Homo sapiens: one gene and its partners. The protein of the gene in region 5 interacts with the protein of the main gene of each other region in a pairwise test. Each region holds a gene or a part of one and is shown on either strand. Other genes may lie near its edges.

Region 1 (4,357 bases), on a different chromosome or scaffold from region 5:
AGCAACAGGAGCTTTCAGTCATTGTTAGTAGGACAGACCTGGAGGAATCATAAAAGCATAAGGCTAAGTGAAAGAAGAAAATCTTAAAAGGCTACATAATGTATGATTCCAATCATACAATATTTAGAAACAGTTCATTATGAATACACTAAAAATATCAGTGGTTTCCGGAGGCTGAGGAGTTAGGGTTGGGGCAAGGGGGATTGATAGGTGGAGCACACAAGAGATTTAAAATGGTGTAACAAGTCTGTGTGATACTGTAATGATGAATACTCACCATTACACACTTATCAAAACCTACAGCATCCCCAACGTTGAGTGATTCCTGATGTAAACTGTGGACTTGACCTAATAATGAGGTATCAATACAGGTCCATCAGTTGTTGCAAACATGCCATAATAATACAAAATATAAATAATAGGAGACACTGTGTGTGTGTGTGTGTGTGTGTGTGTGTGTGTCTGTGTGCGTGCATAGGGCAGGGCAGGAGGGCAGGAATTGGGGGGGGGGGCGTAGATATGTGAGAACTCTGTAACTTTGATGAAGTTTTCTCTCTGTATTTTTGGATTAGCAATGCTCTAAAAATGATGTCTATTAGTTTTTAAAAAGACACAAATGATTTGAAGAGAATATACCAATCAGGAAAAGGCATATAAAAAGATGACCAACGTCATTTGTCATTAGGAAGATGCAAACAAAAAACAAAGGAGATTCAAATACAGGCTTATTAGAATGGCTGAAATCTGAAAATCTAAAATACTAAATGGAAGAGGGGATATGCAACAAGAGGAATTCTCATTCCTTGCTAGTTGAGATGAAAAATGATGCAGCCAGACTTTTAAATCCATGTTTTGTGGACCTACTCATATGACAAATTGTGAAAGTTAAAACTATATGAACTGCAAACAGAGCATAGTTGCTAGAGTCTTTGGAGAAGTGCCTTGACTGACCTCAAAAGAGATGCACAGGGGACTTTTCGGGTGATGGAACTGGTCAGTGTGACACTTGGTTCGTAGATATGGAACTCCACGCATTTGCTAAAATACATATAATTTCACATAATAGTTAAATCTGATGAGTGTATTTTAAAAATTAATAAAAATTATAATAAAAATTAATGACATTAAATTAATAAAATGTTAAAAATAATTTTTTTAAAAGATCACGCACAGGCTGCTGAAAAGACAATGGATTTTTCTGGGACAAGGATAGGGAAAGAAGAAAACTAAGGGAGCCTTTGACATAGGTCAGGAGAGAGATTCTATTAACTTCACACACGGTAGTACTTAAAGTAGAAGGTTTTGGAATGGATTTTAGAGGATGACAGAACAACTGTTGCTGTCGGGACAGGAGAAGGGGGGAGTGCCGGCCCTGGAAGGAGTAAAACCTTGAGGAAGACTGAGGGGCCTTCCCACCTCATTTCAGACACGGGGCAGCTTCAGTTAAGCAGAGAAAGGAGCCCCGGGGCTGGCCAACAAGCAAGAAGGGAACTCTGTGGAAGGATAGCTATCTCCCAACACGGAGGGAAGGCCCAGGCGTCGCCCAGCCACTCCTTGCTGTCACCCCTGGACAAAACAGATGGAGAGGTGAAAACGGAGAGGTGGGCAGGGAGAGGTGGGCGAAGGGCAGGGAAGTGGACAGGAACAGGTGGGAGTGGGGAGGTAGGCAAGAAGGGGTGGGAGGGGGCAGGTTGGTAGGCCCGAAGGGGTGGGAGGAAGTTGGGAGGTGGGTAGGAAAAGGTGGGAGGGAGTGGGAAAGTGGGCAGGAAGGAGTGGGAGTGGTGGGAATATGGGCAATAAAAGGTGAAAGGGGGCAGTAGGTGAACAGGAAAGGGTGGGAAGGGGCGGGGAGGTGGGCATTAAGGAGAGGAAGGGGTCAGGGAGGAGGGTGGGAGGGGGTAGGGAGGTGGGCACAAAGGGGTCGGGGGGCGCTGAGGAGGGCAGGAAGAAGTGGAGTGCGGGGAAGTGGTCAGGAAAAGGTGGAAGGAGGCGGAGAGGTGGGGGGTGGTTTTTCCATGGAGAGGAGGCCCCACCCCACGCTGCCTCTGCTGTCAGCCCTGGTCAGCCTTGGCAGGGTTCGCGGATGTGCTTTCCCGACTTGCACTGTGGGAGTCTGAAGGACCTGAAGCATTTTGCGAGGAGTCTGGACTCAGGTCAGCAGAGGGAAGCGTCTTAGACCTGGCCAATCCTCAAGGTAAGGGCCCTAAGGGAGAACTGAGGGACTTCGCACCAAGGACAGAAGAAGCCCCGGTCTGCCCTGCGCTGCCATAGGACTTGCAGGCCACAGACAGGAAGATGGCCGCCGAGGGCTGACCGAGGCGTCCCCACAACAGAAGAAGGGAGGAGGTGCCAGCCCTCTAGGGAATAAATAGGAAGACATTGAGGAGGACTGGGGGAACCCCCACCTCAGAGGACAGCTTCCCAGAGATTCCCACCCTGCTCCTCATATCAGCCCTCGTAGAGCTCCTCAGTCAGCTCAGGCTGAGCGGCAGTCCTCTCATTGCTGGGGGAGGGGTGGAGGGGAGGGGGAGGGGTGGAGGGGAAGGGGAGGCCTTGGTCTGGGGGGTTCCATGACAAGTCAGCAGGGAGAGTTGCCTCCAGTTGGCAGAGGGAAGATTCCCAGGCCCTGCTGGTGATAAGAGTGAGGACGGAGAGGTCCCACGTGCATCAGAACAGACGTGAGGCCACCCCGACTGCCCCCGTGGTAGAGTGCTGGGAGGTGGCTGCCACCTCGCTACCTCCCGCTGCTCTCAGGGATGTGGAGTTTGCCCTGAGTTTTGGCCAGAAGAGTGGTAGGGACATGGCCCTGTCTGAGAAAAGGTGAGGATGCTAATTAAATTCTGATGGGACCATGCAGTCCAGAACTGTGGGGCTCTGGGAGTCTGGTCAGCCCCAGCTGTCAGCCTTGGGAGGCCCAAGACTCTGCTTGCAGTCTTTAGCCTGAGGGGCTCCCTCACTTCCTCTTGCAGGTGCTCCAGGAACCAGGAGTTGAAGACCTGGGTCTGAGGCACACTTCCTAAAGTCAGCACAGCAGAGGAGGCCCAGGCAATATCAGGAGTCAAGGTGAGTGCACGCCCTGACTGTGTACCAAGGGCCCTACCCCCACAAACAGAGCAGACCTGGCAGCACCTGGCCATAGCCACCTACTGCCATTCCTGGTGCCTCAGGCTCTGCCTGCCAGCTGTGCCCCGAGGTGCTTTCTCACATCCTCCTACAGGTTCTGAGGGAGCAAACCTCTTAGGAAGACAGGCGACCTGTGAGGCCCTAGAGCACCACCTTAAGAGAAGAAGAGCTGTAAGCCAGCCTTTGTCAGAACCATCATAGGTGAGTTTCTCAGCTGAAGCTACTCACACTGTCACTGTCTTCCTCAGGCCTGTGGGATCCCATCATCCCCATCCCTGCTCACACGTTTACCTGCTGCTCCTGAACAACAGGCCTCATGCCTCTCTTTCCAAACCTTCCACGCCTCAGCTTTGAGGAAGACTTCCAGAACCCGAGTGTGACAGAGGACTTGGTAGATGCACAGGATTCCATAGATGAGGAGGAGGAGGATGCCTCCTCCACTTCCTCTTCCTCTTTCCACTTTTTATTCCCCTCCTCCTCTTCCTTGTCCTCATCCTCACCCTTGTCCTCACCCTTACCCTCTACTCTCATTCTGGGTGTTCCAGAAGATGAGGATATGCCTGCTGCTGGGATGCCACCTCTTCCCCAGAGTCCTCCTGAGATTCCTCCCCAGGGTCCTCCCAAGATCTCTCCCCAGGGTCCTCCGCAGAGTCCTCCCCAGAGTCCTCTAGACTCCTGCTCATCCCCTCTTTTGTGGACCCGATTGGATGAGGAGTCCAGCAGTGAAGAGGAGGATACAGCTACTTGGCATGCCTTGCCAGAAAGTGAATCCTTGCCCAGGTATGCCCTGGATGAAAAGGTGGCTGAGTTGGTGCAGTTTCTTCTCCTCAAATATCAAACAAAAGAGCCTGTCACAAAGGCAGAGATGCTGACGACTGTCATCAAGAAGTATAAGGACTATTTTCCCATGATCTTCGGGAAAGCCCATGAGTTCATAGAGCTAATTTTTGGCATTGCCCTGACTGATATGGACCCCGACAACCACTCCTATTTCTTTGAAGACACATTAGACCTCACCTATGAGGGAAGCCTGATTGATGACCAGGGCATGCCCAAGAACTGTCTCCTGATTCTTATTCTCAGTATGATCTTCATAAAGGGCAGCTGTGTCCCCGAGGAGGTCATCTGGGAAGTGTTGAGTGCAATAGGGGTGTGTGCTGGGAGGGAGCACTTTATATATGGGGATCCCAGAAAGCTGCTCACTATACATTGGGTGCAGAGAAAGTACCTGGAG
Region 2 (4,357 bases), on a different chromosome or scaffold from region 5:
GCCAAATGTATGTTTTATTTATTGAATAATAAATAGTGGAGTTATTTATTTATGTGTGTGATATGTGGTTTTTTTAATTATTAATTTTTTAGAAAAATAGAAGCAGGGTTTCGCCATGTTGCCTAGGGTGGTCTTGAACTCCTGAGCTCGAGCAGAGTGCCTACTTCAGCCTCTCAAAGTGCTGGGATTACAGGTGTGAGTCACTGCACCAGGCCTGAGTTATTTGTTTTTACCTCATGAAACAACAACTAACATTTTAGATTTTTTTTTCCACTTGTGAAGCATGAAAAAGTTTACTTAAATTGGATCTTACAAGGATTCATGTAACCAACAGGATTTCCTCCCTCAGCGTCAACTCACATGAAAAGAGGGGTGGACGTTTGTGCAAATTATACTGGTTATGATATTGTGAAATGTAGTTTCCTGGAAAAGTCATTATTGATACCCATTTTTGGCATCTTAATTCAAATTCAGCCATCAGGCTTTATTTTAAATGATTTACACAGCAATCTCTAGATTCTTCTTGCTACAAGTATTTTAAAAATTTTGTTGTGGAGTTCTTCGGCATGCCAGTTAGAGTTATACCTGTAGCATTGGATAAGCACTGTAAAGAGCCAAAATTAGAGGTAATACCCTTGCTCTTCCCTACTTTAATCATGTAATATAGGTCTTGTGACTTGGAAGAAGATTGTCTTATTACCATTACATTTGAACTTTTGTTTTAAAATTAATCTGTTAGATCATATATTCACCAAAGCTCATCTTTTCACTAGCCAGAGAAAGCTGTATTTCAAAATAACCTAAAGTAAAATAGTATTTAATTCAAGAAGTTAGTTTTTATTATATCAGGTGGCCTCTTGGTTGGTTATAGTTTCGTGCATTCTGATGCCTGCGGGCTTTTTATCCTTCCTGTCTCCACTGCATAGCTGGGGAAAACCTAGGGATTGCCCGGTGAATGCCAACAGAGCTTTAACCTGTGTGTCCATGGCTTGCCTTCCCTGAAGCCTCAAAGAGAACAGCTGCGAGTGCAAAAACCTTATGAGCAAAATTTCTGCTCCAGGAACACTTATCTGGGCTGAGGAAACATATTCTAAGAATATCTGTTTTGTAACTAAAGCTTCCATGTACTTGTGTAACGCTTTGTGTAAAACCACGTACTTTGTATAGCCTTTGCTGGAGAGTTTCCATTTTCCTCCAGCTCTTCAGTGTAAGTGAAAAAATGTGCCCAGAATGTCTCTATAGATTATTCTGCCTTCCCTCACCTTTTAGTTTTTTCCATGGAAAGCTGACAGGTCAGAATAGGCATATTTTATTAGAAACTCGAAGTGGTGGGGGGTAGAAGTACACATCTTTGCCTCTTTTTTCCTTCTTGATTACAGAAGTAATAATGCTCCAAAGATGTTTTTTAATAAAACTGAGTCTCGCTCTGTTGCCCAGGCTGGAGTGCAGTGGCGTGATCTCAGCTCACTGCAAGCTCCACTACTCCTGGGTTCACGCCATTCTCCCGCCTCAGCCTCCGGAGTGGCTGGGACTACAGGCACCCGCCACCGCGCCCGGCTAATTTTTTGTATTTTTATTAGAGACGGGATTTCACCGTGTTAGCCAGGATGGTCTCGATCTCCTTACCTTGTGATCCGCCCGCCTCGGCCTCCCAAAGTGTTGGGATTACAGGCGTGAGCCACCGCTCCCAGCCGCTCCAAAGATTTTTTAAAAAGATAAATAAATTTTAACTTGAGGAAAACATGGTTATTCAAAAATTCGTGTTTTTTCTTTTTCTTTAAAAAAAATTTTTTTTAGAGACAGCTTGTCGCACTATCACCCAGGTTGCCATGCAGTGGCAAGATTATAGCTCCGTGCAGCCTCAAACTCCTGGACTCAAGCAATCCTCCCACTTCAGCCTCCCTAGTAGCTGGGACTGCAGGTATGCAGTCTAATTTTTTTTTTTTAACTTTTTGCAGAGATAGGGCCTCCCTGTGTTGCCCCAGCTGGTCTAGAACTCCTGGCCTCCTCCAGGAGCGATCCTCCAGCCTTGGCCTCCCAAAGCACAATACGTGTATTTTTCAGAGGGAATTCTCAACTTTCATCAGATTTTTCAAGGAATATGTTACTCAAAAAAGGACAACAACCACAGCATCAGTTTGACTTGGTTGGTTATTGCATGTCCTTCCTAAATCTCTCTTATAAGCAGCTATGGCTTTATAAGGATTCCTATGTAAAAGCATCATTTTTAGTAGTATTTTATTTAAAACAAAAATAATTTAATAGATTATGAAGGAAAGTCATAGTGAGTCAAAGAACAAATCTGAACAAATCTTCCTCAAGTATTTTATTTATTTATTTATTTATTTATTTATTTATTTATTTTTGAGACAGAGTCTCACTCTGTTGCCCAGGCTGGAGTGCAGTGGCACGATCTTGGCTCACTGCAGCCTCCACCTCCCGGGTTCAAGTGATTCTCGCCTCAGCCTCCCGAGTAGCTGGGATTACAGGCACCCGCCGCCAAGCCTGGCTAATTTTTGTATTTTCAGTAGAGACGGGGTTTCATCATGTTGGCCAGGCTGGTCTTGAACTCCTGACCTCCTGACCTTTTGTCAAGTGTTCAGACAAAAACGTGCACAAATGTTTATAACAGCATTATTCACAGGAGTCAAAAAGTAGAAACAGCCCAAATGTCCATCAACTGATGAATAGATAAATAAAAGGTGGTATATCTGTACAGTGGAAGATTCTTTGGCAATAAAAAGAAATGAAGTATCAGTATATAGTACAACATGGATACCCCTTGAAAACATGCTGAGTGAAAGAAGCTAATTGCAATAGACCGCATATTGTATAATTCCATTTACGTGAAATGTCCAGAATATGTAAATCTATAGAGACAGAAAGTACATGAGTGGTTTGAGTGATTGCCTGGGGCTGTGGTGGGGGTGCAGGAGAATGGGAAATCACTGCTAGTGGGTATGTAGGGCAGGGGGGATCTTTTCGGGGTGATAAGATGTTCTAGAATTGATTGTGTACAATTTGTGAATACTAAAAGCTATTGAATTGTGCATTTTAAGTGGGTGAATTGTATGGTATATGAATTATATGTCGATAAAGGTGTCATGAAACTCAACTAGAAAAAATACAAGTTTATCATAGAAAATATGTAAAATACAGAGAAGTGGAAGAGGAAAAAAGTAATTAGCATTTTTAAAAATTCCCTATTTTTATTTCAATGATAAAAAATAATATAAGCTTATTCAAGAACAATACTGACACTTTAAAACAACATTCTCATATAAGATTTCAGTGCTCTCTGGGCGCGGTGGCTCGCGCCTGTAACGCCTGTAATCCCAGCACTTTGGGAGGCCGAGGCGAGCAGATCACTTGAGGTCAGGAATTCAAGACCAGCCTGGCCAACATGGTGAAACCGTGTCCCTACTAAAAATGCAAAAATTAGCCAGGCATGGTGGCGGGCGCCTGTAATCCCAGATACTCTGGAGGCTGAGGCAGGAGAATTGGTTGAACCCGGGAGGTGGAGCTTGCAGTGAGCCGAAATGGCGCCATTGCACTCCAGCCTGGGCGACAGAGCCAGACTCCGTCTCAAAAAAAAAAAAAAAAAAAGAAACAAAGATTTCTCAGTAATTGGTGGTGGGAGAGTTGGATCCTCACGTGCCTATGATAACCGTGCAGTCACAGTGTATACCGTATTCCACTAGTGAACAAAACTTTAATTTTTACAGAGCAGCATCGTGTTCAGTGACTATTATTTTAACTTTATTGATTTTTTTTGCATGTCATAATTCGTAAATTTGTTTTGGTTTAATTGTGTTAGAGTTAGAAGCACATAAAAATTATGTTTTTACATCCTTTTTTTTTTTTCTGAGATGGAGTCTCACTCTGTCACCCAGGCTGGAGTGCAGTGGTATGATCTCCACTCACTGGAACCTCTGCCTCCCAGGTTCAAGTGACTCTCCTGCCTCAGCCTCTTTAGTAGCTGGGACCGCAGGCATGTTACCACGCGCGGCACATTTTTGTATTTTTAATAGAGACGGGATTTTTCCATATTGGCCAGGTTGGTCTCTAACTCCTGACCTCAGGTGATCCACCCCCCTCAGCCTTCCAAAGTGCTGGGGTTACAGGCGTGAGCCACCGCACCCAGCCACAAATTATATTTCTTAATTCTTTTTATCCTATTACCCCTTCCCTTGGCTACCACCCCCTACCCTCCACCCACATCCACAGTGCTTTAAGATAAAGGAGATTAATTTCGCCTGTAGGAATCCATGGGAACTTGGCCTTCAGACTTCAGGCAAGCACCAGAGTGGAAACATTTGGAAGTCTCATTCTAACATGTTTTTACCTTAAAATTTTT
Region 3 (4,357 bases), on a different chromosome or scaffold from region 5:
GTGAAGACCAGCCACCACTGGGGCATGCTGCTGCGCCACGCACAGGCTGCTGTTAACGTTGCCCACCATGACGCCCTGCTGGTGGGGGGACATTTCCAGTTCTGCGTTGAGGAGCAGAGGTTCTAATGTATGCAGTGCAGCCTGCTCCGCCTAGGGCTCCCTCAGCCATGGACTGCCCCCTACCAGACAGGCCCTCACTTGGGAGACTTGAGAACAGAGTCGGGGATCACACTGTCCTGGGTTTCAATCCTGGCCCCTCCATCTATTTGCCAGGTGACCAGGGCCACTGAGTATAGCTGGGCAGGTTGTGAGCTATATAAGGCACTCACTCAGCCAAGAGGGAACATGGGGGCTGAAGTCCAGCCCATGCCCACCAACCGCCAGGTCAGGCTCCCTGACCCAGGCTACATCCATCTGGAGGGTGGATTATCAGAAAGGCATCGTATGGGCCAGCAGCGCCCTGCAGGCAGCCGGCTCTCTCATCTGTAAAATGGGCATCGGTGTGCAGTGTGAGGCGTGGGTCTGGCGAGTGCTGTAGTTGTTATCACAGCCTCTCCTGGGAAGCCCTCCTGGATCTGCTGTCAGAGTCCCACAGGACCTTGCCCTGATGCCTCTCTGCTTCTGGGGATCAGGGGCTGGCATCTCCAAGCCCAAGCTTAGGTCCCTGAGGTGCCTGGGGCAAGCCAGCGCAGCCCCCCCCACCTCAGTCAGCAGGACCTGCAGATCCTAGGTGAGGCCCAGGGTGGAGCAGGCTGGGAGGGCAGGTTTGGAAGTCAGTGCAGGTGAGGTCCCCATCGAGTGGGGCCTTCTGGGGCCCACACTGAGTGCTTAAAGCTCACACAGCTTGTTCCCAGCCCCTCTCCACTGGTCCAGGACAGACCTTGCCCCTGGGCACTCAGGATCACCTGGAGGCAGCCCTGAGAGTCCCTCTATTGCTGTGAGTGGGACCCCCAGGACAGGGGCCAAGACTGACCCTAGATGGGGGAGGCAGGGCAGGAAAGGCCTCAAAGGTGGCACTCAGTAAACAAGGGTGAGGGAGGAGGGGCAGCCCCAGCAGCGGAGCCGCAGGTGCAGAGGCCTGGGGTAGGGCAGCACCTAGAGAGATGGGACCTGGCCAGGCAGGGCAGAGGGGCTGGGGAAGGGGAGGCAAGGTGAGTGCTGGGAGGGCTGCCTGGCATGACCCAAGAGGAGAGCAGGTTTTATTCTAAGTGCAGTGGAGCTGGGATGGGTGAGGGCCATCTGGCCACCCAGGACTGGGGCCTCTGGCGACAGGTCTGGAACATGGTTTGTCCAGCATGTCAAAGTGGCTACGGCCTTGGGAAAATGAGTGGATTGAAACTATCCCCTGGCTGCAGTGTGGCAGCTGGGGACTGTGAGGAAGCTGGTGCTGCCCTCTGGGTAACTTGTGGGCAGCTGGGAGAGGAGGGATGGGGATGCTGCCAACGCCTTCAAGACCTCTGTGCCCCCTCCCCTGGCTCCTGTCTGCTCAGGCTGGTCCCAGAGTCCCGACCCTGCCATCTCTTCGCAGGTCGAACTCTCCCATCCCCCCCACGCAGGAGGACACCGACAGCGATGGGGAGGTGAATGGCCCAGTGCTGGGCTGGAATTCGGAAGTCGCCCCTCTCTTTCCCTGCCCCCACCCCTGCCCCTCTGGCTCTGTCCCTGTCCAGTCCCTGCCAAAACCTGTGGGTTGCAGGAACCACAGCTGTACTTCACGGAGCCCCAGCAGCTCCTGGATGTCTTCCGAGAGCTGGAGGAGCAGAACCTGTCGCTGATCCAGAACAGCCAGGAGACGGAGAAGACCCTGGAGGAGCTGAGCCACACCCTGAAACACACCCAGATCCGCATGTAGGTGCTATGCGGTGGCCAGTGGGGGCTCCCTGCCGCTCTCATCCTGGGATCCCCCTAGCACTGGGAGCCAAGTTGGGGAAACAGCCCACACCCGTCCGTGGCCCTGGCCTGGTCCAGGTTGTCTGAAAAGCTCCGAGCGAAGCTCCGTTTGTGGGCCGGATCCTGGAGAGAGGGTGGTGGAGCTGGGGGTGGGCAGGGCCCAGGCACCCGTGCCCACCCTGAAGCAGCCCATGGCTAGAGCCAGGCCTCTCCAAGGACCTTCTGCCCTAGGCGCCTTCTGCTGCTGCCAAGCTCCTGGGAGGCCCTTGGAGTGGCTGGAGGTCCACAGCGACCCTGACCCCCCAGTTCATAGCAGCACTAACATGCTTCACACAGGCACCGAAAGCAGTCATTTGCTCAGAAGGGCCTGGAAGCTGCTGCTGCTTCATATTTCGTAGACCACTGAGCGGGTGTTCGCGGCACAGAACTGGGGAAGGCCAAGCCACCTGTGGGCTGCTGTGAAGTGTGTCCCCTGCTGTTGTTCAGCAGCATAACGGGGACGGGAGTGGGTGCAGCCCTGAGCACGAGGACATGGGCATGGCGAGTTGTGCCATCCTGCAGGCTGGGGCTAGGTGGGGCTGAGACGGGCAGGGATGGGTGAGGGCCATCTGGCCACCCAGGACTGGGGCCTCTGGGGACAGGCCTAAAACACAGCTTGTCCAGCATGGCAAAGTGGCTAGGGCCTTGGGAAAATCCTGCCCTCCCAGTTCCAGCCAGAGAGGCAGCAGGAGAAGTCAGGTGGCTGCCCAGCTCTCACCTGGAGCCCAATTGAGGCTATTATGGTCCCTCCTGCTGGGTGTGGCCACTCAGTCCCCTGCAGGGTACCTGCCTCCAGGAGAACTGGGCAGGGCAGGGTCAGCCTGAGGCACTGGTGAGGCATGTCCAGAGCAGGGAATCCTCTGCTCACTCCCCACACACTGCCTGTGCATCCGTTCTGGGTCAGGCCTGGGTCTAAGCTCTGCAAGGATAAAGCAAGGCCCTGCCCTCATGCAGCTGACCTTAATGGCAGCAGATACAACAAACAGATCCACAGATGTGACTTGTGCATACTGATGTGTTCTAGGAGGAAAATAAAGCAATTTGAGAAAGAGGGCTAAAATGGAGGGTGACAGCAGATGGGAGGGGTAGAGAAGGCTTCCAGGAGGTGTCAGGAAACTTCCTGAGGAGTGGGAGGAAAGCCATCCACACAGGCTGGGCGAAGAGGGTCCCAGGCAGCGGGAACAGCAGGTGCAAAGGCACTGAGGTGGGAGCCCACTGAGGCTTAAGTGTCCCATGGGGGAACCATGCTCCTGAGCACCCATGTCCCGTTGGTGCAGTATGGCAAAGAGTCCCCATAATGACCTGAAATCCCCAGCCTCAGGCAAGACTATGTGCCCTGGAAAGCTGGGAGGTGACAGACACAGAGGAAGATGAGCTGGGGAGAGGTGGACAGGCTCCAGCTTTCCAGATAATTGGGCAAGAAGACAGGTTCCTCCTCCAACACATGCATGCAAACGTAAACCTCATAGCAGAATGCTGGATGTGACATCCCAAAGCTGGTCTTCAGCCAGCCAAGCCATCCCTGAGAGCACCCATACTTTGTTTCCAGGGGAGTCACAGCCCATGTGTATTTAACTTCCATGAACTCAGCCATCTTTTCTCAGAAAAAAAATCAAAATATAGTCTTAAAAATATATAAAACAAATAGACAATCATAATAGGCCTATTCCATTAAACAAATTAAATAAATAATAGCCTTCCAAAAGGGAAAGCCCCAGGCTCAGATGGGTTTGCTGGTGAATTCTACAAAGGAAGAATTTCATCTAAGGAAGAAATTATACCAATTCTCTACAATCACTTTTCAGAAGATAGGAGCAGAGGGAGTACTTCCTAACCCATTCTATGAAGCCAGTATGACCCTAATACCAAAACTAGACAAAGGCATTACAAGAAAGGAAAAGTAGACACCAATATCCTCAACATAGATGCAAAAATCCTCAACAAAATATTAGCAAATTGAATCCAACAGTATAGGAAAAGAAGTATATACCACAACCAAATGGGATTTATCCTAGGTATGCAGGGCTGGTTCAACATTCAAAACTTAACATAATCTGTCATATCCACATGTTAAATAAGAAAAGTCACATGATATGATCATAAGAAATAGCACTGAACACAATCCAACATCCACTCATAATAAAAGCTTTCAGAAAATGTGGAATAGAAGGGAATTTCCTCAATTTTGATAAAGAACACAAAAATCCTACAGCTAACATCTTACCTAATGAAACAAAAAAAACAACAACTAGAAGCTTTCTCATGAGATCAGAAATAAGGCAAAGAGGTCTTCTCTCACTACTACTTTTCAATATTGTATTGGAAGTCTTAGCTAATGTAATAAGACAAGAAAAATAAAATGTATATAGATTGGAAGAAATAAAACTGTCCTTGTTCACAGATGACATGAATGTCTATGTAGAAAATT
Region 4 (3,277 bases), on a different chromosome or scaffold from region 5:
GCAATTGTTCAAAAACAAGATGGACAAACAGAAAAATAAACCAAAACACTGTGAAGGACAAATAGCACATTGTGTGAAAACACAATGGAGCCCACAAGATGCAACCCTGGTGCCGAGATCTGCGGAAAGTGAAGAGAATTGAGAAGGAAGTTGCTGGGAGGACTAGAAAATCTCTATTAATCAGAATCCAGAGCACTCCACTGAGAGCACAATCCAGCTGCTGGAAATAGGATTTAAGTGGAAATTCCTCCCTCTCAGTGAATAACAAATATGATGCGTATTTTCCTGATTATGGTCTTTACGTCTTACATTTTCCAACTCTCTTGATATCCCCATTTTGCAGAGTTTCGGTAGAGAATCATTCTCTTGAATAGTAATCTAATCTAGTTGTGATTTGGGTTTGCTTTGGTATTGACATTTCCTAGAGAGCTCCAACAGATACAGATAAAAGCTGAGCTGCTGCGGTTAAATCTGGGGATGTGGTGATGGGGGCCCTGTATCCCTCGAGACTGTCCCTGAGACCTGTAGCTCTAGAATCTAGTCCTCATGACCTCAGACGTTCCTCCAAAAGTAAACTGTGTGTGAACTTGTGCTCCCTTGAGAAGCTGCCTTTAGGAAGGGTTTCAATTCTTTTAATATTTTATCAAGTTTAGTCCTCTTCTACATTTTTTTTTTAAGTTTTGCAAATTTTCATGGAGTTTTTTAAAGCTTTCATTGTTATTTCTCTGTTAACAACTACCACTATGAAAACTTGATTTTCTATTGAGTTTGGGTTTTTTTTTTTTTTTTTCAGACGGAGTTTCACTCTTGTTGCCCAGGCTGGAGTGCAATGGCGTGATGTCAACTCACCACAACCTCTGCCTCCTGGGTTCGAGCGTTTCTCCTGACTCAGCCTCCCAAGTAGCTGGGATTACAGGCATGCGCCATCACACCTGACTAATTTTGTGTTTTTAGTAGAGACAGGGTTTCTCCATGTTGGCCAAGCAGGTCTCGAACTACCAACCTCAGGGGATCCGCCCGCCTCGGCCTCCCAAAGTGCTGGGATTACAGGCATGAGCCATCGCACCTGGCCAGTTTTTTTTTTTTTTTTTTTTTCTAAGTGCAATGGGAAGCCACTCAAAGGGCTTTAAGCAGGGAAGTGACATTATCTGATTTTCGTTTTATAAAGATCCCTGCGGCTGCCGTCAGTGATTGTAGGAGGGCAGGAGTGGATGCAAGGACAGCAGACATTAGTGCAGGAGTTCAGGTGAAAGATGATAATAGCTTGGGCAGAGTGGTAGCAGTGGACATGGAGGGAGGTAGACAGATTTAAGATGTCTCGGAGACAGCTGATGGAATTTGCTGATAACTGGAATGGGAGTGACAATGACAAATAAAGGAACCTAGAATAAGCCCCAGAATTTTGCTTAAGCAACTGAGAGTTCAGCCATGGCAGATCTGTTAAGCACAAAAGTTAAACACAAATACAAATTCATACTGCATTGGACTCTTTTAAGCAGTGTCTTATAGAAAAAACATTTTATCTAGGGAAAAATGCAACAACAAAAACCACTGAAAACAAAAGCCTATGAATAAAAGCAGACCCGTTTTAGACTGGATGCACAAAACAAAAACACACAGGATTCTTGTGGTGGCGATGGGAGTAAGTGAAGACGTAACAGGTTGCAAGTTATTTTAAGGACTAAGACCCAATGTTCAGAAACCAAATCTTGTTCTTCCAGTGTGGATGCTTAGTCAAAGACTGTAAATTGTCTTCAAGCTGAGAGAGACCATGAAGAGAGAGGAGTGGCCACCTAACTAACCTTCCCAGTTTTTGGGAGCCAAACCTAGACCAGAATGTAGGTCTAAGTGACTCCCAATCCAGAGCTGTCTCCATTAGGCCAGGCTCTCACCCCAGCTCCAAACCAACTTCTAAAAACTTGTCCAAGAGTCCTCCTCTTCTTTAGAATTGGTAATCTTGGCAATTAAATTCAGCGTAGAAACACTCTCCTGAACATAATCAGCATGCTGGTTCTTCCTTTTCTGTTGCCTTGCTCTTCCTAACAGCTCCTCCTTTCGTCTTTGCAGGCTGCTTCTCTGTCACAGGAACTCAGGGCTCAGTGCTGTACTTCATCTCCAAAGTGTCCCTAAAGCGCCCATCTGATCCCATGGCTAACTACTCCCCAAATTTTCTCCTGGACTGACCTTACTGAATTTAGATTTGTACATCCAATACCTGCTTAACATATCCACTTTGATGCTCAGTGGGCACCTCACACTTGATCTGTCAAACACTGAATTTCTGTCTCTGTTATGCACATACCCAAACTTTCCCCACCATGTATTTCCCCATCTCAATAAACTGCAATAGCTCAAGCCAAAAGCCTAAGATTCAGACCTGAATTCTTTCCTTTCCTCTCTCTCAAATGCAATTCAACAATTTTCTTACCTTTTATTTTTTGTTTTGGAATGAAGGCACATATAACTGAGCTAGTAATAATGCTTGATTCATAATACACCACCGATGTTCCATGCATAACTCTCTTATTCATTTGTCCATGCATTTATTTTGTTTTTGAATTTTTTTAAAGGGGGGCAAGGTCTACGTTGCCCAGGTTGGAATATAGTAGCTATTCACAGGTGAAATCATAGCACACTATAGCCTTGAACTGGCCTCAAGGATCTTCCTATCTCAGACTCCCAAGTAGCTGGGACTATAAGCACGCACCACTACACCCAGCTCATGTACTTACTTTTAATGACAAATGAACCACCCCAAAACCCACCACCTAACCCAGGGACTAAAACATTACCAGTGACTTACTCATAGATTTGCTCCTCCTCTACCTCTCCAGAGGTAACCACTATCTTGAACTTTATTACTTTTTAAAAGTTTTGTCACATATGTCAATGCCTAAACAGCTGTTCAGTTTTAGTTGTTCTTGACTTTTATAAGAAAAGTATCATGTCACATATAGTTTTCTCAGAATTGCTTTTTCATTCTGAGTTATTGTGCTGCAAGTAGCTGGTATTCATTCATTTTGCTGCCATGTAATAATCACCCATTCTGTGAACACATTACACCTTCCTAAAAATAGACATTTTAATTTATTCCAGAACATTCTTATATGTGTGATCTGGGGGACCTGTGCAAGCATTTCTCAAGTATATACTGAAAAGTGAAATTGCTGACCCATGGGTATACTTTTTTTTTTTTTTTAAGGTATGATCTTACTCTGTCACCCAAGGTAAGAGTGCAGTGGCACAATCATGATTCACTGCAGCCTCAACCTCCTGG
Region 5 (4,357 bases):
TTTTTTTTTTTTTTTTAAGACAGAGTCTTGCTCTGTTGCTCAGGCAGGAGTGCAGTGGCACTATCTTGGCTCACTGCGCCTGCACCTCCCAGGTTCAAGCAATTCTCCTGCCTCAGGCTGCCGAGTAGCTGGGACTACAGGCGCTCACCACCATGCCTGGCTAATTTTTGTATTTTTAGTAGAGAAAGGGGTTTGCCATGTTGGCCGGGCTGGTCTTGAACACCTCAGGTGATCTGCGTGCCTCGGCCCTCCAAAGTGCTGGGATTACAGGCGTGAGCCACCTCACCTGGCCTCAGATGAATTTAGAAACCACTATTTTTTTTTGAGATGGAGTCTTGCTCTGTTGCCCCGGCTGGAGTGCTGTGGTGTGATCTCAGCTCACTGCAAACTCTCCCGGGTTCAAGCAGTTCTCCTGCCTCACCTGGAACTACAGGCGCCACCACGTCTGACTGGGTTTTGTATTTTTAGTAGAGACGGGGTTTCACCACGTTGGCCATGCTGTTCTCAAACTCCTGACCCCAGGTGATCCACCTGCCATGGCCTCCCAAAGTGCTGGGATTATACGCATGAGCTACCCACGCCTAATCTTTATGTGACGTGTTTTTTTAAAAGTCCTAAACTTAGAGGTCATTGAATTTATTGGAGAAGGTTATTTTTGATTAATGGCGATTAGGCTAATTTTTTTCATGGTTTTAATAGAGATTTTTCGTTTTTTTAAACTTGATTTAGATGTATTGCTTTTGGAAATTGCAGAAATTAACAAACCGAGTTTTCCTAAGAAATATTTTTTCTTAATTTCTTAATTGAAAAGTTTTCTATGGCTTCCTTAATAGACAGTAGGACCTAGTTAATAGTTTAAAGAAGTTTCATAATTGTTATTAGAAATGTTAATTATGGGCCGGGTGTGGTGGCTCACACCTGTAATCCCAGTACTTTGGGAGGCCAAGGTGGTCAGATCACAAGGTCAGGAGTTTGAGACCATCCTGGCTAGCATGGTGAAACCCCATCTCTACTAAAACAATACAAAAATCAGCTGGGCGTGGTGACAGGTGCCTGTAGTCTCAGCTACTTAGCAGGCTGAGGCAGGAGAATGGCGTGAACGCGGGAGGCGGAGCTTGCAGTGAGCCGAGATCCCTCTACTGCACTCTACTGCACTCTGCCTGGGTGACAGAGTGAGACTCCGTCTCAAAAAAAAAAAAAAATAGCCAGGCATTGTGGGACACACCTGTAGTCCCAGGTACTCGGGAGGCTGATGCAGGAGAATCGCTGGAACCAGGGAGGTGGAGGTTGCAGTGAGCTGAGATTGTGCTGCTGCACTCCAGCCTGGGCAACAGAGTGAGACTCAAACTCAAAAAAAAAAAAAAGTTAATTTTGTAGTTAGAGAATATCTTCCTGCTCTACGCAAATTCCCTTCCAGCCTGAAATTATTTGTTTTTTTATTTTTTATTTAAAAAAAAATTTATTATTTTTGTGACAGGGTCTTGCTCCGTTACGTAGGCTGGAGGGCATTGGTGCGTTCACGTCTCACTAGCATCGACTGCCTGGGCTCAAGTGATTTTCCTGCCTCAGCCACTTCCAGTAGCTGGGACTACAGGTGCACACTGCCACACCCTACTGAGTTTTTATATTTCGTAGAGACAAGATTTTGCTGTGTTACTCAGCGTGGTCTTGAACTCCTGAGCTGAAGTGATCCCCCTGCCTCAGCCTGCCAAAGTGTTAGGATTACAGGCATGAGCTACTGTACCCAGCTGTGATTTCTTTTAAAGTGCTACTTTACAGCACTGTCACTTTTATTTTATCATTTTTAACTTTAAAGTTTTTTGTTTATTTTTATTTATTTTATTTTTTGAGATGAAGTTTCGCCCTTGTTGCCCAGGCTAGAGTGCAATGGAGTGGTCTCGGCTCACTGCAACCTCTGCCTTCCAGGTTCAAGTGATTCTCCTGCCTCAGCCTCCCAAGTAACTGGGATTACAGGCGCCCGCCACCACACCTGGCTAGTTTTTGTATTTTTTGTAGAGACAGGATTTCACCATGTTGTCCAGACTGGTCTTGAATTCCTGACCTCAGGTGATCCACCCGCCTCAGCCTCCCAAAGTGCTGGGATTACAGGCGTGAGCCACTGCGCCTGGCTTAAAATTTTTATTTTTTATATATTTTGTTTTTTTCTGAGACAGGGCCTTGCCCTGTCTCTTGTCCAAGTTGGAGTGCAGTGACATGACATGGCTCACAGCATCCTTGATCTCTTGCGCTCAAGTGATCCTGCCATTTCAGCCTCCTGCATAGCTGGGAGTACAGGCATGTGCCACCCCACTCAGCTAATTTTTTTTATCTTTTTGTAGAGATGGTGTCTTACTGTGTTGCCCAGGCTGGTCTCAAGCTCTTGGGCTCAAGTGATCCTTCTGCACATTTCCAAGGTTGTTTCACTCCTGTGTCTTTGCTGTCTAGAAGCTTTTCAGTGTGATGTAATCCCACTTGTCTGTTTCGGCTTTTGTTCCTTGTGCTTTTGGGGGTCATATCCAAACAAAGATTGCTGAGGGGCCAAATTTTAAATTGTGTATAATTTTAATGACTTCAGATTTAAATAGCTGCATTTGGCTTATGGAGTCTTTTGAGCAGCATGGTTTTAAAAAGGTTTTTGCCAAGTGGGGTTCTAATGGACACCTATGCTTGTAGAGCTCTGATGTGAGTGATCTGCTGTAGAAATTACTTCTTTTGATTTAGTATATTATTTTAAAATGCAGGTGATGCACTGGTTTCTTGGTGAGGGAAGCTGGTTTTTCCTGGCTGAGCTTCTGTAGGGTGGAGGGCTGGAGTCCAGGCTCTCGCTGGGCAGGGAAGGCAGCTTGAGTGTGCCTTCCAGTCCTCCTGAGGGCCCACATTTTTCTGGGATCACCTGTTTTCTGTAATGTGCATTGAACACACGGGCCAGGAGAAGAGGGAAGTAGAGGAGCTTTGTCCTCTGTGCTCATCCTCACAGTGCTGGGCGGGCCAGAAGGATTCAGGGCCAACCTTAGGGAGATGAAGGCCAGTTAAAATGTTTTATTGCCACAAATGGTGTCTTTTAAGAAATGAATCCATGTATTTTACACTTAAATGATATTAGGCTACTCCGGGCACACTGCCTATGGGGTAGCCCTGCTCTGCAAGGAGTAGTAAAAAAAAAAAAAAAAAAAAAGTTAAAGATACAACTTAGTTTCTCTGTGACTAGGGAAATCGTCCAAGTATGTATCAAATAATGCTAATTGGTACCTAGTTTTATATCTTGATTAGGCAACTTTTTGCTTAAAATTGTTTTGGAATGCATTAGTATTTCTACAGCTTCAGGCTGCTTTATCATCTAATACACAGTTGGATATTTAATATATAGTTTTATCAGTTTTTTTTAAACACTGTTTTTGAGAGGTCTGAGGAAAAAAAAGATAGTGTTACCAAAAATACTTCTATAGGGAAATACTGATAGAAATGTATAGGTAGCCTTGAAATTCTGAGGTTAATAAAAAAATTTGAATGCAGGTAACCTTTCATGGAGTTTGTCAAATTTTAAATTGTGTCTTACATCAGTGATGACTGAAGCAGTAAGGAGTGAGCTTGCAGCAAACAGTGGGGATTGTTGCAGCATCAGCACTTCAGCCAGCTCTGCAGGTTTCCTTGGAGACACGTGGATTTCTCTTTCTAGACCTTCAGCTATTTTCTTTTTTTTCTTGTTTTCTTGAGATGGAGTCTTGCTCTGTCGCCCAGGCTGCAGTGCAGTGGTGCGATCTCGGCGCACTGCAAGCTCCACCTCTCGGGTTCACACCGTTCTCCTGCCTCAGCCTGCCAAGTAGCTGAGACTACAGGCGCCCGCCACCACGCCCGGCTAATTTTTTCTATTTTTAGTAGAGACGGGGTTTCACCGTGTTAGCTAGGATGGTCTTGATCTCCTGACCTCGTGATTCGCCTGCCTCGGCCTCCCAAAGTGCTGGGATTACAGGCATGAGCCACCGCGCCCGGCCAGCTATTTTCATTTTGTTGTTTCTGTAATGCGTATTTGTATTTAATTTATATTCTAAATTTGTTAGTCTTACTGGCATTTGATGAAAACTAAAAAGGTAATTTTGAGATTTCAAGTACTGGTGAGAGAATGTCCCATAGCCTTGAGGGTTGGAATTGTGTACATTGACAGCATAGTGCCACGATACAGGCTAGCATGAGTTCTGGAGGCAAACTTGGATTCTTACTATTTTTAAAGATGCAGTGTCTTTGGTATGTTGCCCAGGTTGAACTCAGACTCCTGGGCTGAAGCCATCCTCCTGCCTCAGCCTTCTGAGTCACTGGGACTTTAGGTGCACGTGACTGTGCTCGGCTCAGACTTGGGTTT
Region 6 (4,357 bases), on a different chromosome or scaffold from region 5:
CAAAAACAATTATTGTGTTGATTTAATAAAGATTTCAATAGGGATATTTATATATCACTTACCTGATTATGTATGTTTGTCTTTTTTTAGGAGAATTCATACCTGTCTATTAACATCAGATTTAAAAATTGTAACAATACAACAAATTCACATTTATTCTTTTTTTTTTTTTTTTGGGGTGTGCATGTGTGTGTGTGAGACGGAGTCTCGCTCTGTTGCCCAGGCTGGAGTGCAGTGGTGCGATCTTGGCTCACTGCAGGCTCTGCCTCCCAGGCTCAAGCAATTCTCGTGCCTCAGCCTCCCAAGTACCTGGGACTGCAGGTGTATGCCATCATGGCCAGCTAATTTTTGTATTTTCAGTAGAGATGGGGTTTCATCATGTTGTCCAGGCTGGTCTCTAACTCCTGACCTCAAGCAGTCTGCCTGCCTTGGCCTCCCAAAGTGCTGGGATTACAGGCATGAGCCACCGCACCTGGCCACATTTATTATTTTTCTATATATGGTGGTGTTTCTGAAATGCAGTACTCACTATAACCATGATGGTTATGGCTCCATGCTATGATTACCATTTTCTGTGCTGCTAATTAGTGACATTTTCATTTCACACATAATGTAGAAATGCAAAAACTCGGTCAAAGAATAAATAAGATATTCATTGGAATTGCATTCGTTATTTAAAGATGATATCTGTGAATATATTTCATGACTTGAGTTGATTTTTAAATACTGTGTAATTTTTGGAACTGTTGAAAGCTAGGTGTTCAATAAATCTAAATTGAAATAAAAATTAACTTATGGTAAAGGCAATGAGAATGATTGTTATTTTTTTAATTCTTCGTGAAAACTGTAATGTAATTTATTCTAAGTGCTGAAAACTATTTGTGTAGTACTTGGGAAGCTCGAAGGCTGAGAACAATGTTGGAACATATACACATACATGCATGTGTAGATGTGTATAAAATTATGAACAAAAAATGAGACTTTGTGATATGGTTCAAAAATTCAAAGGACTTATTAAGGGTAAGTTTTACTGGTTCTTATTAAGCAAGGATGTGTTTTTGTTTCATGTAGAAAACACTCTGGTGTACTTGCTATTTTTGCTTTCTCAGATTGCAAAATTACGCCAGCAGTTGCAGAGAAGTAAACACAGCAGTCGGCATCATCGAGATAAAGAAAGACAGTCTCCATTTCATGGCAACCATGCAGCTATTAACCAGTGTCAGGTAAGAGTACCAATACCACAAAATCCAGAAAAGGAATTTGTTGTTTTTCTGGTGATTTGTTATTTCATTGGTAATTGTTTAGGACAAAAATGCTCAAAAACATATTTGAAACAGTGATTTAAATACTGAATCACAGTCTTTATAAGAAAACAGAATATTAAGTTGACAAAATGATATTTTCCTTTAGTGACCTAAGATACGACTTCTAGGAGACATAGCTACTTATCTATTTTGGTTTACCATATTTTTGGCTTTATCAGTTCAATATTTTGGAGGCAGAATGACACAGAGAATTAAGCATTGGGTATGGAACAGGCCCTGGCTGAATAACTTATCTTTTCTAAGTCTCAGTTTCCTCATGTGAAGATGGGAATAATAATACCTGTCTCGGGCGGGGAACATCACACACCAGGGCCTGTTGTGGGCTGGGGCGATGGGAGAGGGATAGCATTAGAAGAAATACCTAATGTAAATGATGAGTTAATGGGTACAGCAAACCAAAACGGCACATGGGTATGTATGTAACAAACCTGCATGTTGTGCACATGTACCCTAGAATTTAAAGTATAATTTAAAAAAATGTAAAAAAAAAAATAGCTGTCTCATAGAAGTCTTTTGATAGAGACAAACCTTTATCTGCTTTGATTTTTTAGTAGAACCCATGAACTGCTCTTGATGGCTCATCCATCCAAAGAACACTTTTTTTTACTGAATTGAAATTGGATGAGATCTCTTGGCAAGGAGAAAGCAAGTTCATTTCAGGTCTTTTCAGGATCTTTCAAGTTCCAGAATTGAAGCTTTGGGAATGAGGAAGGCTGGATTGAATTTTCCATGTTAACAGTAAGGCAGCAGGGCCTGGAAGGTAGAGGGAAACTAGAAGACTTAGTTCTGTGACTCTCAGGTTGTTTTATAATACTGGAGTTGGCAAACTGTGGCCCGGGAGCCAAGAATGTCCCACCATGTGTTTCTGTAAATAAGGTTTTATTAGAAAACAGTCACTCTCATTTTTTATGTATTGTCTATTGCTCCTTTTTGTGCCACAAAAATATACATTTGACTCTCTATATCTTCAGGTTTTGCATTTATGGATTCAACCAACCATGGATCAAACATATTTTTGGAAAAATAGAATAGAATATGTATAAATATAAATATATTTTAAAATATAATTAAAAGTACAAATAAAAATACAGTATGACAACTATTTACATAGTATTTACATTGTATTAGGTATTATAAGTAATCTGGAGATTATTTAAAATATACAGGAGGATGTTCCTAAATCATAATGCACTTACCATGCCATTTTATATAAGGGACTTGAGTATCTGTGGATTTTGGTATTTGGAGGGGGGTCCTGTCCTGGAACCAGTCTTCTGAAATTGAGTAGTTGAAACAGAGACTGTCTGGTTCACGAAGCCTAAAATACTTACTGTTTGGCCCTTTACAGATAAGGCAGGCCAACCCCTTTTATAGTTTGGTAGTGTCTGATGTTTGTTAAATGTATAGATTGTTTGCAATGGAAAGTATGGGTAAAGGTATAGACTTTTTCAAACTGATTTTGCCCCAAAATATTAATACTCGGGTCAGATTTGATTTCACAGGTTTATAGAGATTGTTTTTTGTTTGTTTTGAGACAGGGTCTTGCTCTGTCACCCAGGCTGGAGTGCAGCAGGGTGATCACAGATTCACTATAGCCTCGACTTCCTGGGTTTATGTGATCCTCCCACCTCAGCCTGCTGAGTAGATGAGACTACATATGTGCACCACCATGCCTGGCTAATATTTTTTATTTTTTATTTTTATTTTTGTAGAGATGGGGTCTGTGTTGCCCAAGCTGGTCACTAACTCCTGGCTTTGAGTGATTCTCCCACCTTAGCCTCTCAAAGTGTTGGAATTACAGGCATGAGCCACTATGTCCAGCCAAATTTATAGTTCGATTATAATTTCCAGTAACTTTTTTCTATATTTGATATTTTAATTAAAAACATGGTTATACATTAGTATTCGTGTATATTCTGTACAAACTAGATTTATTTCTGGAGAAATAGAAATTTTAAATTGACAAAATAAGAAATGAAAAATTTGTAAAGACTAATAACTTTTGAATTTGGAATGTTAATTAAAAACCCAGTCTCACTCTCAAGAGGCTGAAGACCCAGATGATTTTACAGATGAATTTGCCAACCTTCCCCTTCCTCTCATTCATTCATAAATAAATGGTATGTGTTTCTAAAAAATAAGGCCACTTTTTACTCCCAGTCCATATTTTTACTCCAAGTAGAATAGGGATTAGGATGGAATTTTATTGAATTAAGTGGCTAGTTTTAGGACTTCAGAAGTTTCTGAAGTGATTATTTTTTAAACTTGTGTTAAAACCAACAATTTTAAAGTGGTTATTCAAATTTTCATTTTTTTCTTCTTGCAAGTTGAATTTACTTAATAAAGATTATTGGAATTTACTTGAAATTTATATTTAATTTAAAAACATTTCCTTGCAGAGAGGGTAAGGACAAGAAAATAGAGAAACTTGAAAAATAGTTCATCTAGTTTGAGTTTTGTACACTTGACACATCAAGCGTCTTAACTGTTTCTCCCATTTTATTTAGTGTTATCAGCCAACCGCAAGTCAGGCACATGTGCATCATGATAGTAATGACAGTAGTACTCATGTTTAATTGAAACTCACGCTGGCCGGGCACGGTGGCTCACGCCTGTAATCCCAGCATTTTGGAAGGCTAAGGTGGGTGGATCACCTGAGGTCAGGAGTTCGAGACTAGCCTGGCCAACATGGCGAAACCACATCTCTACTAAAAATACAAAAATTAGCGAGGCTGGCGGGTGCCTGTAACCCCAGCTACTTGAGAGGCTGAGGCAGGAGAATGGCTTGAGCCCAGGAGGCGGAGGTTGCAGTGAGCAGAGATCGTGCCACTGCACTCCAGCCTGGGTGACAGAGTGAGACTCCATCTCAAAAAAAAAAAAATTTAAAAAGAAACTCTTAGGCTGTAAACATGAAAATAATTTCTATTAAGTTATTGTTTTGGTGGGTTCTCTATCTAGTGGAGAAAAGTGCCACACGATACATGTGTACTTCTGAGGCCATTCATCAGCCCATACAATATTTATTAATCATT
Region 7 (4,357 bases), on a different chromosome or scaffold from region 5:
GGGCAGTTTTTCCTTGGAACTATGTGTATACTGGGTTACAGCATAAAATGTATTTCTTACTGTGGTTTGTAGTCAGAAAAGCAGTTTGAAAGCTGTCGTAGAGGACATACAAATATGAGCACACCCGGGGCCAAGGCCCAGCTGTGTGTTCTCTTCCTGAGCTGTGGGATTTACCCAAAAAGACTTTGGGACAAGGCCATCTGTGGCATTGCTCTGCCCCACAAACCCAGATTCTTAGGGCAGCAGCATCTCTGACATCTCCCAGCCAGGTCAGTGCCAAGATGGACTATATCCAGCCCAAAGGTTACAGATAGCATCAACCCAAGTGGCCACTTGACCTTGTTCGTGGCCAAATTTCGACACCAAGATATCCTTCATCTTTGTCAGTGAGCTCCTGGCTTCCTCTCTGTCCAGGGCACCCTGGGGAGAACACTGGGCCCATCCATCAGACCCTCCCCTGCAGGGATGGGGCATGAGAGTGGACCTCCCCATCACCAAGGCCTCCCAGCACGTGGGGAGCCTGCTCCTCACTTGACTCCCCTTCCTGGGAACCTCGAACCCCTCCCTGCTCCACTGCCTACAGTGGGAGCGCTCTTCTTGAACACATTTGATCCTTCACGACAACTTGGCACAGTCAGCCAATCTGCAGTCTCTGTAACCACCTGTTTTTCCTCCCTGGCTTTTCACATTGCTTTCTTTCCTTTACTCTCTCTTCTCATTCTCTCTGAAAGCTCGCCTTCTTTCACCAAGAAACTCTAGGTTTGTCAGTGGGCACTTCCTGGCTCTCTCCAATATATACCACAGGACCCTACATGGCCAACTGCCAGATGCAGATGGCTCCAGCCTGGGGCAAGCTGCGGCCGGCCTGCCCAGGTGGCATGCATGCTGTGGTCAGTGGTGTGGCAGGGCCTCACTTCCGCCCAGGACTACTTTAGTGATAGTGATTTTTAGTGACAGTACAGGCAAAGTATCCAGGTTAGGTATCAGCAGAGCTTTTTGAGAGGATTATATGAACTAAGCTACATAAAGGCACTTTACAGGCTTAAAAGCATTTTACAAAATAAATACTAGCTTCAACTGCATGTTTACTTAGGCCAGACATGTTACAGGTGTCATCAGATTAATATCACCATTATCTTCATCTTACAGATGATGAAAATGAGAGACAAAATGGTTAAGCAGTTATAGAGCTAGTGAATTATACAGTCAGAAAGTAAGCCAAGAATGAACCCAGGTGGCCTGGCTCCAAAACCAGCAAGCCTAACCATGACACTGTAGCTGCCTCCCAGGTTAAGGTGATAGACTTCCTTTAAATGTTATTAGAACTCACCATCTCCTGACTCTTAAAACTGCCCTTCTTTTGTGGGGTCCTCTCGGAGGGTTTAATCTGGGGGCAAGCTTGCCCTCTGTGCTGGAGACTAAGACTGGCTGCCTTTCCACCCTTTGAGTCACTGCCATGCCCTCCGCCGCCCCAGGTGCACCAGACCTGGTGATGAACGCCCAGCTAGTGCAGGAGACGGCCTACTTGGAGGACCGCCCGCTCAGCCAGCTGTATTGTGCCCACGAGGAGAACTGCCTCTCCAAGTCTGCGGATCACATGGACTGGCCCTACGGATACCGCCGCCTATTGCGCTTCTCCACACAGATCTACAATCTGGGCCGGACTGACTTTCGTCCAAAGACTGGACGCGATAGCTGGGTTTGGCACCAGTGCCACAGGTTAGAGCCTGCCCATGCATTGGCACTAGAGGGTTAGGAACAAAAAGCAGGGTCCAGGGAGCAGTTTGGCCCTTCCCTGGCCACAGGCAAGTTTTCCTGGGAGGGGTGTGCGCTCTCCTTGCTGGCCTTGCCTGCAGGAGGCAGTGAGGACAGCGGCATCCACCTGCCCCTCCATCGCTCTCGCCTTCACTATGTCAATGGTGCCCGTGGGGTCTGTTTCCCACAGCAACATCCCATAGAGGCGTCACCGCCAGCAGAGTTGTTCTGTTAGAATGGTATTTGACACTTTTCCTATGTTGGATCATAGGCCTTGTCTTCAGAAGCCAGGTAAAGTGGGGACTCCCAGGAACCTGGGGGCCCAAAATAGACATCCCATCCAGGGTGCTGGCTCTGCAGGAAAAGCTCGCTGATTCCTTCAGTAGTAAGGCAAGGCCCTCAAAGAACAGCATGAACAGACTGCCACTAAAAAAGTGACAATGAACATTCTTTCCTATCAGGAGCTTCCAGACCAGAGAGAGGGAGAGACAATGCCTGTGACAAAGGCAGAATTGTTTTTTCTTCTTCAGAACATAGCCACGGGTGGAGAAAGTGGAAAGGAATGGGCAATGACTTTGGGACTTGGTCTCGCCTGAGATAATAAGCACCTTTCCCTGTAGCATGAACAGAGCTGTCATTATAACTGGATTGGAAACAATGGTAGCAATTTGGTCCCAGGCTTACAGGGACCCTCTTCCCAGCAGGTCAGCTCCTAGGCTGCTCACAGACCCGGTGCCCCGCCTCTCCCCCCAGTTCAGGCCTTGCTGTCAGGCACCAGCCTCCTGGAGGCGACCAGAGCAGGGCTTCTACCTCTTGCCTGGGTTGAGACCCTAGGTGGTGGGGGCAGCTGTACTTGCTGCCTGGCAGGGGTGCCAGCAAAGGAGGCTGTGCGTCACACTAATCTCGGGTTTGGGAGGGAGAAGGGCACTGCCTACTATAACTTTCCTCTCGGGTCATGATGGGGCCTGGGGCCTGTCTTCCCTACCAGCCCCTCCAGAGAGGACCCTCTCCTGTTGCTGCCGCACTGACAGCTCTACCCCTTCTGCAGGCATTACCACAGCATTGAGGTCTTCACCCACTACGACCTCCTCACTCTCAATGGCTCCAAGGTGGCTGAGGGGCACAAGGCCAGCTTCTGTCTGGAGGACACAAACTGCCCCACAGGTATGTGGTTTCCTGTCAGCACCTATCAGCATCTCCTTTTGTTATGTTCTTCAGCCCCTTTGGGATCAGGCTTTCTCTCTGCCCTGTTCAGCAGCCCAGGGCACCTGGAGACCCTGGCTTGAAAAGTTAGCATTCAAGGCAATTTCTTACCTTCTGAAATCTTACGCAGGAGGTTTTTACTTCCTCTGAATTCCCCACGCATTGTTCTTCTTTTAAAACACTCAGCACTTTCCATCTTGGAGAAGAGTTGCAGACCTGTCCTATCTCTGCTGAGCTCTCCGAGGGCAAGCATTGCCTGCTTCCTGTCTGCACACCCACAGTCCCTAACCCTTAGGAACTGCATGGTAAACACTGAATCTTTAGAGGTTTGGAAGGATGGATAGGCGGATGCACAAGTAAATTAGCACGGGAGCGTTGGAATCTCCCAACCACAGTTCCTAGTTCAACAGGGATTTGCACTGGAGCAGTCAAACAAATCCTATCTTTGTCACAATGTGGTTTGCTATGGTGCTGGATTCACAGCAGGATTCTAGCTCTGACGGTCCTTAATCTGTGAACTGGGCATGATGACACTGAACTGGTAAAGGAAATAAAAGACCTAGCAGAGTGCTTCGTCCTGCCTCAAAACCTGTCTGTCCCCTTCCTTACAGGACTGCAGCGGCGCTACGCATGTGCCAACTTTGGAGAACAGGGAGTGACTGTAGGCTGCTGGGACACCTACCGGCATGACATTGATTGCCAGTGGGTGGATATCACAGATGTGGGCCCCGGGAATTATATCTTCCAGGTAAGGCGGCTGGGGGATTCCCCACAGAGCCTGATTTCCTCCAGATGTTCCACAACTTTCCCTGAGGGCAAATGAAGGGAAGAATTTCCCATACAGGGTTTCCGACAGGCCTGTCACTTAAAGGAGCTGTCCTGTTAGGGAAGTAACAGTCAAGCTGGGTCCAATGAACCTGTGTTTGAGTATTGATTCAGTGAACACTGGATAAATCAGTTTCTCAGTTGGGACTTCTCAGTCCCTATCTGTAAAATGGGAACATCAGTACCTACCTCCTGGGTAATTGTTAAGAATTAATGAAGCAAATAGAAACACATGTAAGGATTATCACAGCCACAGTCAACTCATTCAGAAACCAAATCACCCATTTTCAGTTGTCCCCTCTTTCACTCTAGGTGATTGTGAACCCCCACTATGAAGTGGCAGAGTCAGATTTCTCCAACAATATGCTGCAGTGCCGCTGCAAGTATGATGGGCACCGGGTCTGGCTGCACAACTGCCACACAGGTAACTCCGAGCCACTGTGGAATCAGCCATCTATAGGCTCAGGGAGCTGGAACACTGTAAATGTACCCTCTGCTCCCACACTCCAGCGTGTGACTTGTATGTGTGTGGTGTGCAAAAGGCTATGGATGGAACAGAGATGCATTTCCTTTG

What was found.
Region 1: the proteins of DNAJB6 (region 5) and MAGEC3 interact in binary tests that used the Homo sapiens proteins (3 or more experiments, as listed by UniProt).
Region 2: the proteins of DNAJB6 (region 5) and CNST interact in binary tests that used the Homo sapiens proteins (3 or more experiments, as listed by UniProt).
Region 3: the proteins of DNAJB6 (region 5) and CFAP100 interact in binary tests that used the Homo sapiens proteins (3 or more experiments, as listed by UniProt).
Region 4: the proteins of DNAJB6 (region 5) and RAB3IP interact in binary tests that used the Homo sapiens proteins (3 or more experiments, as listed by UniProt).
Region 6: the proteins of DNAJB6 (region 5) and FAM117B interact in binary tests that used the Homo sapiens proteins (3 or more experiments, as listed by UniProt).
Region 7: the proteins of DNAJB6 (region 5) and LOXL4 interact in binary tests that used the Homo sapiens proteins (3 or more experiments, as listed by UniProt).

Annotation. Positions count from the first base shown.
Region 1 is NC_000023.11:141,893,214-141,897,570, forward strand, and holds part of MAGEC3 (melanoma-associated antigen C3), read left to right. Parts: intron 1-1,452; exon of another isoform or gene 1,453-1,601; intron 1,602-2,055; coding exon 2,056-2,194; intron 2,195-2,271; coding exon 2,272-2,346; intron 2,347-2,969; exon of another isoform or gene 2,970-3,063; intron 3,064-3,217; exon of another isoform or gene 3,218-3,294; intron 3,295-3,371; exon of another isoform or gene 3,372-3,439; coding exon of another isoform or gene 3,440-3,668; coding exon 3,669-4,273; coding exon of another isoform or gene 4,274-4,357.
Region 2 is NC_000001.11:246,572,648-246,577,004, forward strand, and holds part of CNST (consortin), read left to right. Parts: intron 1-4,357. UniProt on the Homo sapiens protein: Required for targeting of connexins to the plasma membrane.
Region 3 is NC_000003.12:126,421,797-126,426,153, forward strand, and holds part of CFAP100 (cilia- and flagella-associated protein 100), read left to right. Parts: coding exon of another isoform or gene 1-56; exon of another isoform or gene 57-1,054; intron 1,055-1,528; coding exon 1,529-1,580; coding exon of another isoform or gene 1,581-1,696; coding exon 1,697-1,848; intron 1,849-4,357. UniProt on the Homo sapiens protein: May play a role in ciliary/flagellar motility by regulating the assembly and the activity of axonemal inner dynein arm.
Region 4 is NC_000012.12:69,818,372-69,821,648, reverse strand, and holds part of RAB3IP (rab-3A-interacting protein isoform alpha 1), read right to left. Parts: 3' UTR 1-3,277. UniProt on the Homo sapiens protein: Guanine nucleotide exchange factor (GEF) which may activate RAB8A and RAB8B. Promotes the exchange of GDP to GTP, converting inactive GDP-bound Rab proteins into their active GTP-bound form.
Region 5 is NC_000007.14:157,343,163-157,347,519, forward strand, and holds part of DNAJB6 (dnaJ homolog subfamily B member 6), read left to right. Parts: intron 1-4,357. UniProt on the Homo sapiens protein: Has a stimulatory effect on the ATPase activity of HSP70 in a dose-dependent and time-dependent manner and hence acts as a co-chaperone of HSP70. Plays an indispensable role in the organization of KRT8/KRT18 filaments.
Region 6 is NC_000002.12:202,725,141-202,729,497, forward strand, and holds part of FAM117B (protein FAM117B), read left to right. Parts: intron 1-1,109; coding exon 1,110-1,223; intron 1,224-4,357.
Region 7 is NC_000010.11:98,250,915-98,255,271, reverse strand, and holds part of LOXL4 (lysyl oxidase homolog 4 precursor), read left to right. Parts: intron 1-1,475; coding exon 1,476-1,719; intron 1,720-2,803; coding exon 2,804-2,919; intron 2,920-3,569; coding exon 3,570-3,706; intron 3,707-4,095; coding exon 4,096-4,207; intron 4,208-4,357. UniProt on the Homo sapiens protein: Catalyzes the oxidative deamination of lysine and hydroxylysine residues in collagen and elastin, resulting in the formation of covalent cross-linkages, and the stabilization of collagen and elastin fibers.